2 separate regions of the Homo sapiens genome follow, and region 2 is linked to region 1. Evidence: fine-mapped expression QTL. A gene starts in region 1. The other region holds a variant in brackets. All regions are shown on one strand. Distances are from middle to middle. Region 1 holds the start of TMEM229B (transmembrane protein 229B). Region 2 has its middle 21 kb from the start of TMEM229B.

Region 1 (5,372 bases):
AGATGGGGTTTCACCATGTTGGCCAGGATGGTCTCAATCTGTTGACCTTGCGATCCACCCACCTCGGCCTCCCAAAGTGCTGGGATTACAGGCGTGAGCCACAGTGCCCGGCTGATCTGATGGTTTTATAAGGGAGAGTTTCCCTGCACAAGCTCTCTTTCTGCTTGCTACCAACCTTGTAATATGTGACTTGCTTCCCCTTGCCTTCCACCATGATTGTGAGGCTTCCCCAGACACGTGGAATTAACCCTCTTTTTCTGTATACATTTTCCACTCTTACGTATGTCTTTATCAGCAGCACGAAAACAAACTAATACACTGGGTCTGGCCTGGATTTTAGAGGCCATGTGGCCATAAGACGGCTCCCGCATGTGATGGCCCAATATTGCTTGACATTCCCCTCCCATTGCCCTGTGACAGGACCTTGGATGGGGAACAGACTCAGAACTAGAACCTCCAGACTCGTGCCCATGCTGATGAGGTGCCGAGCAGGCAGGATCGCTGGGCTGGTGATCCCCTGGGTGCTTGTAACATACTCACTTATCACACCCTTGAGTGTGCAGCTCACAACAGACATCAGGATCACTGTCCAGGAGTGTCCTGGGTTAACCTTTGTTGGCTGGGCCTCAGTGCCATTCTCAGCAACGTAGGCAAGCATCAGCCCTAGGGCTCAGCTGATCCTTGGCTGGGGGGCTGGCAGCTTCCATGTGTCCCTGGGAATAAAAGAGGAGGCTTTTATTAGCTTAAACTGCCCCCAGCAGATCCAAGAAAAACATTGCAAGGGCCTGGGCTCTGGGCTCAGCACCAGACACTCATCCCACCCTGGCCACCAGGGCCCCTTCCCGGAACCTACCCCCTCCTCTTTGCATCCAGTTTGCTCAGGTCTGATTAATCCAGCCACAAAAGTCTGGGATGGTCCTGGACAATCCACATGTCCAGGGTTAGGACTTAGGGCTTCTTGCCTAAATGTGTGAACACTTGTGAATCTGAGAGGGGATATAATTTTAGAATCCAGCTCCATTCTCATTCAGCTTCAAATTACATTCTCACCTTCACCCTGTAGTGGGTACATCTGTTCTCAAGGGCGGTCAGAACCTCATGGAAGGCAGACAATGTAGGACATTCGTTTCAGCACTTTGAAAGCAGAGAACAACCACTCGTGCAGAAAAACAAAATGTGTGCTAAACCTTTCTACGTACTATTCTACCTCTCTAATATTTATTCATCTCATTTTATTATTTCACCATTATTATGGTTGAGGCCCTTCCTATGAACATCAGTAACCAGCTACAAGCTAATACAAATCTTACTTTATAATGCCCTTTGCCATGTACTTTAAAAAAAAAAATCAAGTAGAGACGGGTCTTGCTATGTTGACCAGGCTGGTCTCAAGCTCTTGGCCAACCCTCCCACCTCAGCCTCCCAAAGTGCTAGGATTATAGGCGTGAGCCACTGTGCCTGGCCAGCCATGTACAGCCATGTTTTTACTACTATCCCTAAGACTTGACTATTTAATGGAGATTCCAACATTTTTTGTTTTAATATGAAAGTGCTAAAGCTTCCCTGAAAACCCCCTGGATACAACACCATCTGCATATGCCCAAGGACAGCACTCAGGCCCAGCATGGCCCTCTGGGACAGCCCAGCCACTCAGAAGCTGAGAACAGTATGTGGCTGGGGGTGGGAGCTGGCACTCCCCTGTGGATGACCAGGCAGGATGGACCAGAGGTGCTGGTCTGTGCTGATGCCCATGTCCACCTTCCCCACTCCCCTCTGACCACCAGGGTCTCTGAGTAGAGGCCGCTTGGGCCCTTGCTCAAGCTGACAACCTGTGAGGCAGCCAGGCAGCCGAGGAGAAGTGAAAGGGCAGGAGTGGGGGAACTGAAACTCACTGTATGGTGTGGTTTTGGGGGGTGCCCCCCTGGGTCTCCCCCCGGGGCCTCTGCACTGAGAGCATCACAGTGGGCTGCTGTGCTCAGCCTTGCCTCCCCCTCCCCAGCTCCTTCACAAACGGGACCCTCCAACCCTCCCTGATCTGTCCATCTTACCGGCTTCTTCCAGCCTGCCGGATGGCGGACAGGGGTCACCTTGACACGTACCTATCACCTTGAGGAAAAGGTTTTAACGGAGCATGTCCGAACCCTCTGGGACTCTCTCTCCACCAGCACCACAAGGACCATGTGCCTGGGGAGTTCAATCCCACCTGTGGAGACTTCTCCCCACCCTAGGCCCTCAGCCACATCCACGGCACAAGTCAGAACTAAAACAGAAACAGAAACCAAAGACCACATCCTGCCGGCACAGCCTGCGGGTTACTGCAGCCAGCTCTGGGAGCCCACTGCCTGCTGAGGTGCAGCCCTGGCAGATGAAGCCCCAGCACTCAGAAAGGCTCCTTTTGAGGGCAGTGTCCCACCAGACACCTCCCACTTCCTGGTCTGCAGGCTTTTTCCCCAGGAAAAACTTAGTTGCAGGGAGGATGAGATGATGGTGCACCTCTCCCTCCAAGTGCATAAGCTGTCCCTAGGCCTCACTGACACTCCCTATCCCCCAAGAGTAGATCCCAGGGGACAGGGGACATGAGGCTCCTTTGAGGACTGCAGGACCTGAACCAGAGTTTCTTGGAACATATGAATGAATGATGAGCCCTTATAGCAACTAACATATGGATGGAACTTAGATCATCTCTCATGATTTTCTCAGGCTCCTGAGGGGCAGGAAGGGCAGAAATGGTCACCTCTATTTTAGAAATGAAAACACAGAGGGTTCAGGACATTAAGAGATTTGGCCAAATCCAAACATTTGATTCAAATCCCAGTCCTCAGCCTCCAGAATCACCCTGTCCCCATACAATGTGCCTTCGAACTGCTTCCCACCCAAATCTCATCCTTAAGGCACATGTCTGCATGCAAGGGTCTTCAAGTCAGTGTAAACTACTTAGTCCATTCCAAGTAAGCTGCTTATTTTGCAAACTTATAGCTGAGTTTGTCCATGCAGCTTCTGGTCAATATGCCTGAGACGCTGCTGGGAGCGTGAAGAAGCAGAGACCACCGGCCTGTTTCAAGCACTGTCATCTCTCCTGCCCTCCTCTGCAGCCACCATTCTGACTCCTTCTTCCAGACCCTGCTCCCTCCTCACTCCTTTGCGATGCCGTCCCACAACCTCCAGGTCATTCCATCACTGATGTTCCCAGGGGGATCTGACCATCCTTCAACTGAAACATGTCATCCCATCTTAAAATTCTTTCTATGTAGCCGGGCGCGGTGGCTCACGCCTGTAATCCCAGCACATTGGGAGGCCGAGGCGGGCGGATCACGAGGTCAGGAGATCGAGACCATCCTGGCTAACATGGTGAAACCCCATCTCTACTAAAAGCACAAAAAATTAGCCAGGTGTGATGGTGGGCACCTGTAGTCCCAGCTACTTGGGAGGCTGAGGCAGGAGAATGGCGTGAACCTGGGAGGCAGAGCTTGCAGTGATCTGAGACCACGCCACTGCACTCCAGCCTGGGCGACAGAGCGAGACTCCGTCTCAAAAAAAAAAAAAAAATTCTGTCTATGTGTCTGTTTCCCCCACCACGCTATGAATTTCTTGAGATCATAAAATTTCTGCTGGATGGATGGACAGGCAAGGTGGAGAAGGGCCCAGCTGCATTTAAATTCTTGGGCGACTGAAACATCCAATGTTACTAATCAAACATAGCAATGTCTTGTGTTTTTCTCTAATTTATAGGCCACCATCACAGATGAGCCATACATGTTGGTTTACTAAAGGCAAGGCTGTCTCTGCAGGTGAAGGAAGCAAGGAGTGTGCTCACTCTCCTTTCTCCCATCTCCAGGAGCCATTGCACCACCAGAGAATGAAGAGAGGCAGAGTGGGCGGCCTGGGTTTGCACAATACAGAAGGCATGTCCAACATCACGCAAGGAAGACTGGGGCAGGAACAGACTGTTCCAGGCATCAGGGGAGATACTGCAGCCTCCTATGTGGGCAAGGGGCCAAGCGCAGGTTCAGGTCAGAGAATAACAACTCCTGTTCTGTTATTTCTACAATGTGCTGGCACTCTCAAAAGCCACATCAGTTTTCATGCACATAGGATTCACTTCCCAAAGAGGCTACTGGCAGGAAATTCCCTTCGCACCATTTTCTCTCCTTTCCTATAACTATTTAAGGTAAGCTGGGCTTGCAGGATTGAGTCTCTGCTTCTCTGACCAGAACCTAAAAATCAGATCTCTCTCCCCGGCCCCTCATCATCTCCTTGGCCTGGAACCTAACACTGGAGCCAGAAAGCATGCAGGCAAATACTACCTCTGTTTTTTTACCCCCACTCTCCTTTTCCTTAACACTCCCCAAATCTCCCTGTAAAGGAAAAAAAGTTTTTTCCTTCTGCTCTCACACTCAAAGCAGAACACTTCTGTGACCAGATATGGGGTGGGCGTGGAGGGGGGCAGATATGCCCCCCATATCTGGTCACATTTCTCCAGCAGACACCAACTGGGTCTCCTACAGTTCATTTAAACTCTGATGCTATCTATCCTGAGATAGCAGCAGATCCCACATTCTGAGGGCTCAGTCCCACAAGACTGCCCCCACTTCAGATGCCAGTCACAAGTAGATCGTCACCTATACTTCTGAACAATTGGTTACAAACCAGGGTTCCCATGACCGCCTCCTTGGGTTCTATTAATTTGCTAGGATGGCTCACAGAACCCGGGGAAACACTTACCTTTACTGATTTATCACAAAGGGTGCAGATGAGCAACCAGATGCAGAGATGGATAGGGTGACGTATTGGGGGGTCACCCACCAGCACCGCCACATGTTCAGCCACCCAGAAACCTATCAAATCTTATTCAAGAGTTTTTATGTAGCTTGATCTCCACCCTCCCACACCTTTCTTGGAGGTTGGAGGGTGAGGCCAAATGTTCTAATCCTCTAAGCATTTGGTCTTTCTGGAGACTGGCTCCATCCTGAGGCTGTCTAGCCCCTCCACCACCCCACCACTTCCCCAGTAACTTCATTAGCATAAACTCAGGTGTTATCAAAGGTGCTTATTATGAATAACAAAAGACATTCCTTTCACTCAGGAAATTTCAAGGGTTTTAGGAGCTCTATGACAGGGACCCGGGACAAAGACCGAATACATTTCTTATTACACCGCACCCTGACCCAGGTGCCCACAAAGTAGAGAAGATGCCTAAAGGCCCACTGGGGAGCCCTCTGGTTACTCAAAGCCCCCAGTTCTTCTCACGTGACTCAGAACAACCACTTTTACTTATCCTAGAGTAAGAAAAGCCCTGAGCACAAATGGATCTGGTAACTTCCTACACCAAGGAGGGGCCAAGCTCAACTACAAAAGCAATCAGTATTCCAGAT
Region 2 (5,372 bases), 20 kb after region 1:
GAAAATAGAAGGAATGAAAGAATCCAAGGGTCCTTAGAAAATGGCTTTGTTTGGGCCAGGAGTGGTGGCTCATGCCTGTAATCCCAACACTTTGGGAGGCCAAGGCAGGCAGATCATGAAGTAAAGAGATCGAGACCATCCTGGCCAACGTGGTGAAACTCCATCTCTACTAAAAATACAAAACTTAGCTGGGGGTGGTGGCATGCACCTGTAGTCCCAGCTACTCAGGAGGCTGAGGCAGGAGAATGGCTTGAACACAGGAGGCAAAGGTTGCAGTGAGCTGAGATCGTGCCACTGCATTCCAGCCTGGCGACAGGGCCAGATTCCATCTAAAAACAAAAAAGGAAAGAAAGAAAAAGAAAAAGCCTTGTTCAAAGGGAACTGAAGATAGCCTAGCCATAGCCCAATTCCATGAACAAAGAAGACGTGGTCCCTGAGTTCCTGGGCTGAGTATATGGTTTAGCCTTGCCCTTTCAGGTAGTTAGGGCAACAGAGGGGGTTATACTCTCGCTAACACTGAGTTGCCCAGAAAGCACCAGCTAAATTAGCCAGGTGCTAATATAGGTGGTGCAACTACAGTCCTAGCTACTTGGGAGGCTGAAGTGGGAGGATTGCTTGAACCCAGGAGTTCAAGGCTACAGTGAGCTATGATTATGCCACTGCACTCCAGCCTGGGTGACAGAACAACATCCTGTCTCTAAAATAAACAAAAACAAAAACAAAAAAACATCAACCAGAGACCTCAAGTTCTGGAGACCCAAGTGGCAGAGGAGCAGGGATAGGGGGAAGAATCCTGGACTGAAGCAGACCCTGGAGTCCCCAGGGTCTCGGTCTTTTGTCCAAGCTGGAGTGCAGTGGTGTGGTCACAGCTCATTGCAGCCTCGACCTCCCAGGCTTAAGTGATCCTCCCACCTCAGCCTCCCAAGGAACTGGGAGTACAGACATGCGCCACCATGTCCAACTAATTTTGTGTAAAGACAAGGTCTCACTGTGTTGCCTAGGCTAGTCTTGAACTGGCAAGTGATTCTCCTGTTTCCATCTCCCAAAGTGCTAGGATTACAGGTGTGAGCCACCCTGCCTGGCTCAGTTTAAGTTTTAAGACAAGACATAAAGGTTGCTCCCCATGACATAGGAATGGTGAGTATAAGGGTGTACAGACACCACCTCTCAGCTGCCCCACTGAAGCGGTTAAAAGAGCAATGACTGGGCTGGGCATGTTGGCTCACGCCTGTAGTCCCAGCACTTTGGGAGGCTGAGGCCGGCAGTTCACCTGAGGTTGGGAGTTCCAGACCAGCCTGACCAACATGGAGAAACCCTGTCTCTACTAAAAATACAAAATTAGCCGGACGTGGGGGCGCATGCCTCTAATCCCAGCTACTCGGGAGGCTGAGGCAGGAGAATTGCTTGAACCCGGGAGGTGGAGTTTGCTGTGAGCCGAAGTCACATTGCACTCCAGCCTGGGCAGCAAGAGCTAAACTCCATCTCAAAAAAAAAAAAAAGAGCAATGACTGGTCCTAGTCCCCCTTCTTGAGAAGGGACTTCCTCCAGCTCTGACTTTGTTCCTTAGCTTCCAGTTTGACTTCTTTCTCCTTCAACACCATCTCTTCCCTCCCAACTCTGACTTCTGACAGTTCCAGACCAGCTGAGTTATTTCCTGAAAAAGGCTGGAACCTCAGCCTTTCTCAGGAAAGGCTGGATCATCTAGCATTATTACCTGAAGAGAGGTTAGAGAATATCTTGTCCAAATGATAAGAAAACTAAAAGCCAAAAAACTTGCATCACACGCCCAGAGTCACTGAGCTGTGAGGAGAACCCAAGTCTCCTGACCCCTTGCACACTGTTCCATCATACAGCCTCACGCTAGCTCTCCAAGAGGGGTCAGCTCACCTTCCTTGGACCACCACCTTAACCCTCATTCCTCTTCCATGAATACTTCAAAATGGTGGAAGAGGCCAGGTGTAGTTCTGCACCTGTAGTCCCAGCTACTTGGAAGGCTGAGGCTAGAGGATCCCTTGAGCCCAGGAGATAGAGGGATAGAGGCTTCATTGAGCTGGGATTGTGCCACTGCACTCCAGCCTGGGTGACAGAGCAAAACCTTGTCTCAAAAAAAAAAAAAAAAAACAGAAGACAATTAACTTGCTTGGAACAAACAAGAATGGATCCCAATCTACTAGCTGGTCACCTTTGAATGGAGAAATCAGTGGCTATAAATATTTTCTCAGAAGAACAGAATAATCTCATGTTTGCTGTACTTTGCTCAGTGTAGCTGGGACCCCAGAGTCATAATCAGGTCTCCACAGCTGAATTATAATGATGGGCAGGGAAAGGCCCAGAAACTAGGTTGGAGGATGAGGATTGGGGTCAAGAATCTGCAAAGATAAGCTTCTATGACTAGTGGCAGTAGGACAACAGAAATAAAAATGTTGCCCAAACAGACCGTTAAGCAAGAGGAAA[A/C]TTTTGGTTTCAAAATGAAATGGGGTTTATGAGATGTATTCCTATGCCAAGCAGAAAGCGTGTTCCCTTTACAGTAACTCCCAGGCCATCTGGTCTACTTCCCTACTGCAGGGTACAGACCTCTCCTTACTGAACATTCATTGAGATGATGTTTTTCAAACAAGAATCTGTACTTCTGTCTCCTTTTAACTAGTTGTGTTTAATCCACATCAACTCTCTCTTTTTTTTTTTGAGACGGAGTTTCACTCTTGTTGTCCAAGCTGGAGTGCAATGGCATGATCTCTGCTCACTGCAACCTCCACCTCCCAGGTTCAAGCGATTCTCCTGCCTCAGCCTCCCAAGTAGCTGGGACTACAGGCACGAGCCGCCATGCACAGCTAATTTTTGTGTTTTTAGTAGAGATGGGGTTTCACCATGTTGCTCAGGCTGGTCTTGAACTCCTGACCTCAGGTGATCCACCCACCTCGGCCTCCTAAAGTGCTGGGATTACAGGCATGAGCCACCGCACCTGGTCAATTCTCCTTTTTATGTGTTAACCTATACTGCCTCCACTTTTACCCTCTCCCCAACATTTGGTCTATTATCTGATCCAAGCTTATAAAACACAATAGATTCAGACTGGCTGGGAGATGTGGCTTATCCCTGTAATCCCAGCACTTTGGGAGGCTGAGGCAGGAGGATTGCTTGAGGCCAGGAGTTTGAGACCAGCCTGTGCAACATAGCGAGTTATAAAGACTCTGTCTCCATATAAACAATTTTAAAAGTAGCTAGGTATGGTGGCACATGCCTGTAGTCCTAGGGAGGCTGAGGCAGGAGGATCACTTGAACCCAGGAGTTCAAGGCTGCAGTGAGCTATGATTGTGCCACTGCACTAAAGCCTGAGCAACAGAGAGAGAACCCGTCTCTAAAAAAATTTTTTTATTAAAAAAAAAAAGAATCAGATAGATCTCAATTCAAATCCCAGTTTAGACACTTACTAGCTGTATGATATGGGTGATCACTTTATCTTGCAGAGCCTCAGTGTTTCCAGCTGTGAGATGGGGATAATTAATAGTAGCTATCTCATTGATATGAGAAAAGAACATATGTAAATGCTTAGCCTAATAAATGGTGATTGTCATTATTATTGCCATGATCACTGAAGCCAGCTGAAGCTCTATTTGTGGAATTAAGTCTCAGAGGGCTGAAATGGGCTGTCCAAGGTCACACAAGTGAGTGAGTCAGGGAGGGATCCCAGATTTCCTGATTCCTGAAGCCTTTGCCAACCATCAGCTCACACACAGACGAATCATTGCCCAATGACCTAGAAATCGGGGTATCTGATCACATCCAAGTACCACAGCTGGTGATTTAATAAGCACTCACCATGTGTTAGAAACTGTGCAGGCTATATGAAAGCTTTATAGCATCTATAGGTCAGTATAAGAAGGTCATCTCATTGCTTATGCCAAACTAAAAGAAAAAGAAAAAGAAAACAAGACAAAAATCTGGAACCGCTGCTTGTGTTGCCCAGTGGTAATGATATTTCTTGTCCATGTGTGTTTTAAGAAAGTAGATGAAAGTAAGACCAATGCTCTGGCTGCCTTATTCCTGGCTTTGAACAGGCCTTTTTGATTGGGAACAAGGGGAAGAGAGATACTAAGGACTTAGGGACTAAAATGGGGTTTGGCCAAGGACAGCAATGAAAAAGGAGATGGGGGTTGTCAGTGGGCTAAAAACAAGTCCCTGTCGGTGCTCTGAAGAATGGCAGTTATTGTCAGCAAGGTGGGCTTCTCGCTGCACCAGGGCCTGTCCCTCCACTGACTGTGCAAGCAATGAAACCATGGAGCCCCAGGAAGCACATTTTATCTTGAAGCATGAATCACCCCTCAGAAGTCTAGAAAAGAATCCTCTCTTTGTGGCCCTTCAATCTCCTTGGCTGGCATCCCTAGCTCCTCAGGGCTGATGTCAAGGCCTTACTAAAACTCAGGGTGAGTGACCTTTCCAATGGAAACGGATCATTCCAGAAGCTCATGTGACAGGGGTGCCTCTTAATAACTGAAAGGAAACAATGAATGAATGGGCCAGCTAGATGGCATTCGTCATTCAAGTCTAACTGCAAAAGCAGTCAGAAGTGGATAATCCAGTATGTTCTGAATGAGGGGCTTTTGGAAAGCAAAGGAATGGCAGAAAGTGATCTCTCCCCTCATCTTTTCATATTTATTAGCTCTCCCTACATTAATTGACAGCTGAAGTCTTATTTAAAAAAACAAAAAAACAAAAAAAACTGTCATGCTTCTAGAAGATGGAGCAGCCGGAAGGAGCAATCTGAGGACCCGAGACCTGTCCGTGTAGATGGTTTGCCCTCATTTCAAAGATGCTGTCTCTTCTATAATACCAGCCACACTGGGAGCCGAGAATCCCGAAAAAAATATTAAACTCCCTACTGGGAAGCCAGCAGAGTAAAGGATGGTGAAAAGCTGGATGTTCAAAAACATGAATTGTCAATGACTTTGGTTGTTCCTCAAATTGCCAGACTGGATTGTGATCCAAAGGTAAGTGGAAGCACCAAAATCAGAGGAGGGTGGAAAGTCGCCTTTCAGAACCATCCTTTGAAGGAGCAGGGGGCCAGCATCACTCTGTGACCTCCGCTCCACTACATTTATACATAGGGGAACTGATGTTAAAATGAGCATGAAGTATAGCCTCACAGGGGAGGAGAGCCGAAGGCCACACTGGGTATAAATGCAGCCTGATGAATGGGAAAACAGGGAAAGGAGCAAACCCTCTTTTCCATCTTGGAAATGTGATGGTTGACTTAGCCTCAGTTCTATCTGTGGATGTGTGTGTCGGGGTGAAAACCACTGCCTTTTCCTTGAATCACAGCAGCATGGGGCATCCCACAGCTCAAAGTCTGAGGCAAATATACGTCTTGAACC

What was found.
Region 2: its variant is fine-mapped to the expression of TMEM229B in whole blood (TOPMed, PIP above 0.99). The same link has a PIP of 0.9 or more in monocytes.

The regions. Positions count from the first base shown.
Region 1 is chr14:67,486,460-67,491,831 of GRCh38, forward strand. TMEM229B (transmembrane protein 229B) reads right to left here and starts at 2,262. Exons shown (of 3, transcript NM_001348543.2): 1 at 2,049-2,262; 2 at 541-713. It also overlaps a transcript of GPHN not described here. RefSeq lists enhancers at 1,604-1,673, 1,837-2,336, 1,974-2,393, 4,943-5,372.
Region 2 is chr14:67,506,651-67,512,022 of GRCh38, forward strand. It overlaps a transcript of GPHN not described here and a transcript of TMEM229B not described here. Among named protein-coding and RNA genes, the nearest start is that of TMEM229B, 21 kb to the left of the region's middle. The variant A/C (reference allele first, on the strand shown) is at 2,455.